Linked DNA regions of Homo sapiens. The protein of the gene in region 1 purifies or fractionates together with the protein of each later gene. This does not show direct contact. Each region holds a gene or a part of one and is shown on either strand. Other genes may lie near its edges.

Evidence for each region. Proteins that work in one complex are often made in the same cells at the same time.
Region 2: the proteins of IGSF1 (region 1) and KCNC1 fractionate together in Homo sapiens (co-fractionation; one large-scale study listed by BioGRID). This does not show direct contact.

The regions. Positions count from the first base shown.
Region 1 is NC_000023.11:131,286,507-131,290,641, reverse strand, and holds the start of IGSF1 (immunoglobulin superfamily member 1 isoform 1 precursor), read left to right. Parts: upstream 1-1,335; 5' UTR 1,336-1,428; intron 1,429-1,580; exon of another isoform or gene 1,581-1,620; intron 1,621-3,900; 5' UTR 3,901-3,967; coding exon 3,968-4,037; intron 4,038-4,135. UniProt on the Homo sapiens protein: Seems to be a coreceptor in inhibin signaling, but seems not to be a high-affinity inhibin receptor. Antagonizes activin A signaling in the presence or absence of inhibin B.
Region 2 is NC_000011.10:17,765,781-17,769,280, forward strand, and holds part of KCNC1 (voltage-gated potassium channel KCNC1), read left to right. Parts: intron 1-3,500.

The DNA of each region.
Region 1 (4,135 bases):
GCCTGTAATCCCAGCAGTTTAGGAGGCTGAGCCTCCAGACCAGCTTGGCCAACATGGTGGGACCCCGTCTCTACTAAAAAATACAAAAACTAGCTGGGTGTGGTGGTGCGCGCCTATAATCCTAGCTACTCGGGAGGCTGAAGCAGGAGAATTGCTTGAACCTGGGAGGTGGAGGTTGCAGTGAGCCAAGATCGCACCACTGCACGCCAGCCTGGGCGACAGAGTGAGACTGTCTTAAAAAAAAGGAAATGTACATAAAGAAAAATTTGTCTATTTTTTAGCCAATTAGTCTATCATGTTGATATTTCTTATCAATTAGTCTGTGAGCCCATTGGATGCTATACTTTAATCTCATCATATGTTATATATCAGGAGCTTTGATTAGTGTCTTATTCATACATTATCATTATAAAAAGTCTTTCATAATCAACATTTGTGAAAGGTTGCTCTATATTATTAAAATCATGTTACTCTAAGACATTTGGGGAAGGGCTTACAGATTAATAGTAGTAGTAGTAGTGGTAGCAGCAGCAACCACTACCATTTATTGAGCACCTACTACATGCTAGGCCTATTGTGCTGTTAGTTTTACTTACATCATCCCATTGAGGCCTTGTGAAATAGGTTCTGCTGTTTTTTGTTTGTTTGTTTGTTTTTTACTTTACTGTTGGGGAACCTGGGACTCAGAGAGTTTACTCACTTGCTTGAGGTCACACAACTATTGAATGTAAAATGTGGACTAAAATATACATTTGTATGTCTCTAAAGCCTGGGCTTTTACCCCAAGATGGACTTTGAAGGCTGTCCAAGTTACTTAACCCTCTCTGAGTTTCCGTTTCCTCATCTGTAAAACTGAGGGGAGTAACACTTATTTTGCAGAGTTGCTCTGAAGATGAGAAATAATGGATCCCAGGGCCCAGGGGCACACAGTAGGCACTTAAACTGTGGTGATGTTTATGCATAAATGGGGCGTTAAAATGGGCAGGGGAAGATCTGAGATCCCGATAAAGGTATTGGGGAGCTGGAGAGAAGGATCTACAAATCTTCTTGAGAGCTGGCCTTCTCCCCCCCACAATACAGTGACCCAGTGAAACTCTGAGAGACAGGCGAGGGGGCAGGGGCCTGAATTTGGCTCCAGCAACCTCTGCAGGGAGTCCGGAGAGAGGCGGGGAGCTGGGAGGGGCGTAGAAATCCCCGTCGTCAGAGGACTGCAGGTGCCAGGCAGAGTTGGTGTAGGTGGGCTCCCCGAGCCCGGCGCAGGGAGGGGAGGAGGTTGGGGCGGGCCGGCAGGCGGGCGGGGGAGAGAGGAAGGCGGGGCTCAGAGCCGAAGAGGCTGTCCTTAGACAGCTCTTCTCATGCCGGGCAGTTTGCTGCATCTGGAGGAGCTCACTGGAGAATCTCCAACATCGGAGCGGGCCTTCAACTACCGTAAGTACCTACAAATGAGCGCATAGTTCAGTGGCTGAATATTAAATACTGGCCACCGGATCCTAAACAAAACCCCGAAAGAGTCTCCTTGCTGTAATTAATTGCCGTAAATCAAACTGCTCCCCAGTCTGTCCCCCCACCCGCTTCATTCCTGCCTTTCTCCTTTCCTTCCCGGATCCCAGACCTGCCTCGGTGAGAATCTCTGGGCACTGTAGATATCTCCCCTTTTCCTTCTCAGTCTTCCCTCCAAACCCTCAGCTGAGCATGTACCCGGCACCCCGCCGAGCCCAACCCCTTTGATTCCTGGAGCCCTCAAAGCTATGCAGGGGGCGAGCCATTAGACATTTCAGATATGTCACCCTCAAAAGCACTGCGGCGCTGCCTAAGGGTGGGGAAAGTGCTTGGGGTGGAGTAGGAGGGAAGGGTAAAACGGCTAGGCAGCCAAAGTTGGGGGTGGGGGTGGGGTGAAAGGCCAAAATGGGCGTGGCCAACTAACCCAAGGCTTGGGGCTGTTCTCATGTTCCCCCGGTATAAGATTCATCATCTGGGCTGAATATAAATGGTACAATTTCCTTAGTGATTGAGGAGGGGTCAGCCATGCCAAAAAGCCCAGCTTCCCTGACTCCCCTCAATCCCCCAGTAGGCAAAGATCCTGGTTTAGGGGTCCAAGTGGCAAGGCTGAAACCTCAGATGGCATTTCCTGGGTGTAATCCCAGGTTGAACCTCTCCCTTGGCAGTGGAACCTGGCTTCCCCCAAAAACTCCTGGCCCAAAGCCCCAGGGTAACAAAGCAACAGGGTAGCATCCAAGCTTTGGCCTGGCCCTGAGAGGAGTGGGAGCAAGGGACTGTAGGAACTGAGATGGAAAGGGCATCTTTAGGGCCCTACACCAGTTGGATGCCCCCTTTGAAAAGAAGAAAAAATAAGCATCTTTTTAAAATGTAATGTTCACTATGTGCCTGGCACTGTACATGTATTATCTCTAACCCAACACAACAATAATGTTAGGTCGATATTACTCCTCCACTTTACAGATAAGGAAAATTCAGAGTGGGTAATCTGAAAATCCTTTGATACAAAGTGAAAAATGTACAATGGACCTATGCTTCCTTGGATTTCTCACTGTCCACTTGTTCCCTACAGTCCAGATATTTTGAACACGAAATATCCTCCTCTTCCTGCTCCTCCATCCTACCCAGTGTTAGCACTGGGGCAAGTTTGAGGCTGAGGTCCAAGGTCAGTCTGGAAAAGCAAAATCAGTTCCTTTCTCTATTCTGGGAGCTGCCTCTTCCCCACTCTTCTGAGCTAAGATTTAATAACAGCTGGAGTCAGCCAGGACTTCAGACTCCCAGTAGAAAGTTGGTGGAAGAGAATTAGCTTGAGTTTGCGTGGCTGGGACATACCTTCCCTTGGTGAAAGGTTACTGTGGGGGGAGGTGGAGAGAGGCATGAAAGCTCAAGAGTCTACCTTGTGTATATGCAAGGCCTATGGTAAATAATGACTTTGGTCAGGGAGAATGGAAAGCCTCCCTGAACTCAAATATCTTTGCCGTATTTCCTGAGATTCAAACAATTCCATTTCCCTTAGAGGCAATCAACAAAACTGTTTAGAAGTTAAGGGCAACGAAAGAATCATTTAGACCTTATGTAAATTAACTCAAGCAGCTTGATTTTCTAACACATGCTTGACACTGGGGTATTGAGCTTTTAGGGGTAGGAGACAAGAATGAGAGTAATATTGGATCTAAAGCATTCTATGGAAGGGAAGGATATCCAAGGGATCAAGTGAGAGGGGTAAGGGAGGGTGAAGAGGGAGTGAAGGGTACCTCTGGGAGTTTAAATCATTGTTTTAGATCCATAGGCCTTGGAGTTAAACATGGATTCTAATTTGGGCTCTAATATTTAATATCTTTTGACTTTGGGCAAATTATATAACCTCTCTAAGCCTCAGTTTGTTCATCAGTAAAATGGGGATGGTAGTAATGCCCCCTCTCTTAAGTTGTTGGAGGACTCTCTCTCTCTCTCTATATATATATATACACACACACACACATATATACGTATATATATACACACATATATACGTATATATACACACATATATATACATGTATATACACATATATATACGTATATAAACATACGTATATATATATATATGCATATCTGAAAAGGTGACTCTGCACCTCCCATCTCCCCCATCCTGTGGAGCTTCTGCAGGCTATTCTGGGCTTCTGAGATCCCAGAGACAAATCCATATTTCAACAAATCTGACATCTTTGATACCAACAAAGACCTTGAGCAGGATAGGGAAGTGAGGGAAAGGAGCAAGGAGAGGAAGCAGCAGGTGACCTTGTAATACCCTGCATGCCTGTGAGGAAGTACAATGTAGGGTTGTCAAGTGCAATTTAGCCATCTAAACTAAACTTTAAGGAGCAGGACAAGTCCTCTGAGTAAAAACAATTCTGCTTTTAGATCCCACCACCTGCTGAGGAGAAAAATTCTTCAAGACTCAGAGCACACAGCCAGCACCAGAGGCCCCATGACCCTGGACAGACCAGGGGAGGGGGCCACCATGCTGAAGACATTCACTGTTTTGCTCTTTTGCATTCGTGAGTACAAGGAAGGGGTGAGGGGCAAGTGACCCTGTCATAGGTACCCACTCATTAGGGGTGGGAGAGGAAAGTATTGAGGTTTGAGCACAGGATGG
Region 2 (3,500 bases), on another chromosome or scaffold:
CCCCTGTCAGGCCGGCAGCCCAGGAGGGACTGGCCTCCCAGCAGGCCTGGATCCTGGGTGTGGTGGGACTCAGCTGCTGCAGGCATGGCGTGTAGAAGGGAGATAAAGTCTGACAGGTCACACAAAATCAGGAAGCCCATGGGTGATGGGCACAGCCTAGGGTCGGGTAATCCGGGAGATGGCAGCCTGAGCAGAGAGGGCGGAGGAGGCAGAGGCAAGGTGGGCTGGAGCTGCCTGTCCTGCAGGAGGGGGACAGACACTGAGTCAGTTACACCTGGGGTCGGGAGAGAGAAGTCTGCAGGGAGCTGCCGGGGCACAGCCAGGGCCTCCATGTGCTCACAGTGCGTATGCTGTGCTGTTACCTCTGCTGCATTATCTGTGTGTGCCGAGTGTGTATGCACGAGTGGTGCGTGTGTGCGCCTTGCAGTGCAGCACCCAAGTGTTTCTGGTGGTGTGTGGCGATGTGTCTCCGCATGTGCTCCATGGGCTCCTGTGTTTACTGTGTGGTGGGGACACTGTTGTAGTTTGTGTGCCATGTGCACAGTGTCTGTGCTTAGGTAATGGATGAGACATGTGCTCTGCGTCACTGTGTGTGTTTGTGGTCTGTGGGTGACTCTTCCATGTCTCTAGGTGGCTTGGATTGGGAAGCAGATCACTCATGTGGGAAGCAGTCCCCTAATCTTGCCTGTGACCCTACAGCCCCGGGGATGACAGCCCAGGGTTGTCACATAGGCTTTTCTGAGGCTTACCAGGCAGAGGGTCCCTCTGCTGTTGACATTATACCTTGCTAGACAGGGGCAGTGTCCCCACCCATGGGGCTGCTCTTATTCCAGTTGCTAGCAGATTCTGGGCAATGAGGCCTAAGAAGCATTCAGATGTGGCTGGCTCCAGCATTTGGATCCAGGTAGCCTTGCTCTATCACTGGGGATAGGCACAACCTGCTCTTACGGATTCTGAGCTGTGCCTGTTAGGCTCCTAGACAGAGCCATTTAGACACAATCAGGGGGCGCTCTGCAGTGGGTGGGGCTGGGTTTTTAACTCCAGGAGCTTTGGCGACTCTGGAGGCAAGAGCTTAGGTTCTAGAGCTCAATACACTTGGGAGGCCGAGTCTGGCAGATCACCTGAGGTCAGGAGTTCAAGACCAGCCTGACCAACATGGCGAAACCCCATCTCTACTAAAAAATACCAAAAAAAAAAAAAAAAATTAGCCGGGCGTGGTGGTGGCACCTGTAGTCCCAGCTACTCAGGAGGCTGAGGCAGAGAATCGCTTGAACCCAGGAGGCGGAGGTTGCAGTGAGCTGAGATTGCGCCATTGCACTCCAGCCTGAGCAACAGAACGAGACTCTGTCTTAAAAAAAAAAAAAAATTAGCCGGCTGTGGTGGTGCACACTTATAATCCCAGCTACTTGGGAGGCTGAGGTGGGAACCCGGGAGGCGGAGGTTGCAGTGAGCCAAGATCACGCCACTGCACTGCAGCCTGTGTGACAGAGCAAGACTCCGTCTCAAAAAAAAAAAAAAAAGAAAAGAAAAGAAAAGAAAAGAAAGAAAAACACTTGGATCCAAGTCTCAGCCTCATCACGAGCTTTAAAACCTTGGCTTAGTCCCCGAACCTTTCTGTACCTGCATTTCCTCCTTGAAGCAATGGGGATATGGCCCCGTCTCACCAAGCTGGTGTGAGGACTGAAGGCACATAGTAGGTCCTCAAGTTTTGGGAGCTCTTTCCTTTCTCCAGCCAGCCCTGGAGAATGGACACAAGGGACCTGGGGCTTCGTTGCTCTTGCTCCGGCTGTGCCTGTGGCTGACCTCCCACTGGTCTAGACTTAGGAGGACACTGGGATCTGAGCAGGCTGAGGCATCTTCCTCCACAGCACTCTAAGCGTCCCTTGGGATTTGATGTTGCTGGGGCTCTGCCTGTAACAGAGGAAGATCAGGCCTCACAGTAGCAGAGGACAGGAAGGCAGGCGCCCAGGGAGCCTGAGCAGTGTGAGAGGCCTGGCCTCCACCTCTCCTGACTCTCCCTGGGGAAGGTGTCTTTGCACCTGGACCTGGCTTCTGCTGCCTGCTCCCCATCCTCCACTCCTTGGGCACTGGGGCCCAGAGAGGAAAGAATCTAGACAGGCAGTCCATTGGTCCCTGAGAAACAAAGACTTTTTACCATAATCTTATAAGGCCTGAGTTTTCCAATCAGGATCTGAACTGAGAGGAGCACTTGAGATGAGAGCTCTGAGGGCTGTGGGGTTGCCTGGGAGTTACCAGGCTCCTGGGACATCAGTGCCCTGTCTGGGCTGTTCCTGTGAGCCTCCCCATGCACTAAAGAGCTGGAGTCGGAGATGGGCTTGCTGCCTCCCTGGGGTGCATTTAGAGACTCCTGGGGAACTCCCTTCAGTTGCTGTCTCCTGTGGGCCAGGGCTGTGAAGGGGAACCTCACCTCAGGGGACGGGTCACTTAGTAGGGCCCTGAAGGATGAATGGGATTTTTCCAGACAGAGACTGGCAGGAGCACTCTCCAGCAGAAGGAATAGCAGGTACAAAACCACGGAGGTGGGGAGACACTCTGTGGTCAGAAATGGCAGAGAGCTGCACATGGCAAGAATGTTGGGTGCATGCAGGGAGAGGACCCTGGGAAATCAAATGAGGCCAGGACGTGGAGAGCCTCGTGTGCCAGGCTGGGGAATTTGGACTTTCTCTGTGGGCTGCATGGGCAGAGCTGGGATTCCAGTTGAAAGCACCCTCTGGTAGCCAAGACTGAAGTCTAAACCTGCTTTGATGGCAGTGACCCTGCCCGGAGAGAGTCCCATATGAACAGGGAGTACAGTGGAGAATGGATGTTGGTGGGGGGGGGGGCGGTTTGGGAATGGGATGTCCTGGCTGATGGGGCAGTGAGGAGGGGAGGTGCCTCCAGCCTTCAGCCAGGATTGAGAGCCAAGTGTGCAGTGGGCCCTGCCTCTTGGCACCGTTCGGTCATCCACAGTGTGCTTGTTCCTCTCGTCCCATACAAAGGCCAGGGCAGGGGGTGCAGCTGGGGGGCCTGCCCTGCCCTTAGGGAGTCTCTGGGCTGTGAACGCCAAGCTCCAGAATGCGGCCTTCTAGGGGGGATCTGAAGCCAGATACCCAGCAGACCAGGATGTGTGTTTTAGCTCCAAGAGCCTTGGCAACTCTGGTGATGGAGAGAGCTCTGGAGCTCATTAAACTTGCAGCCAGCATGGCAGCCTCTTCCCGTTGCTTCTACATTGTTTTCCTGGTCTACCTCTGTTGTGCTCCAGGTCTGGTCTTTCTGGATCTGGGAGCCATGGCTTTGAGCCTCTACCCTGCCTCTCTCAAGTGCGCCCACATTACTCTGACCTTTTTCCAGCCTCTTCTAGTTCATAGGGCTGAGGGTTCAGCTTTTCAGTCCACTGCATTGTACTTGTCTCTGAATGTATCCTTCACCTGAGCTAGGCAGGGAGCTCCCTGAGGCTGGAATGAGGCCTTATTCAACTCTGTGCCAGGCAGAACTTGGTG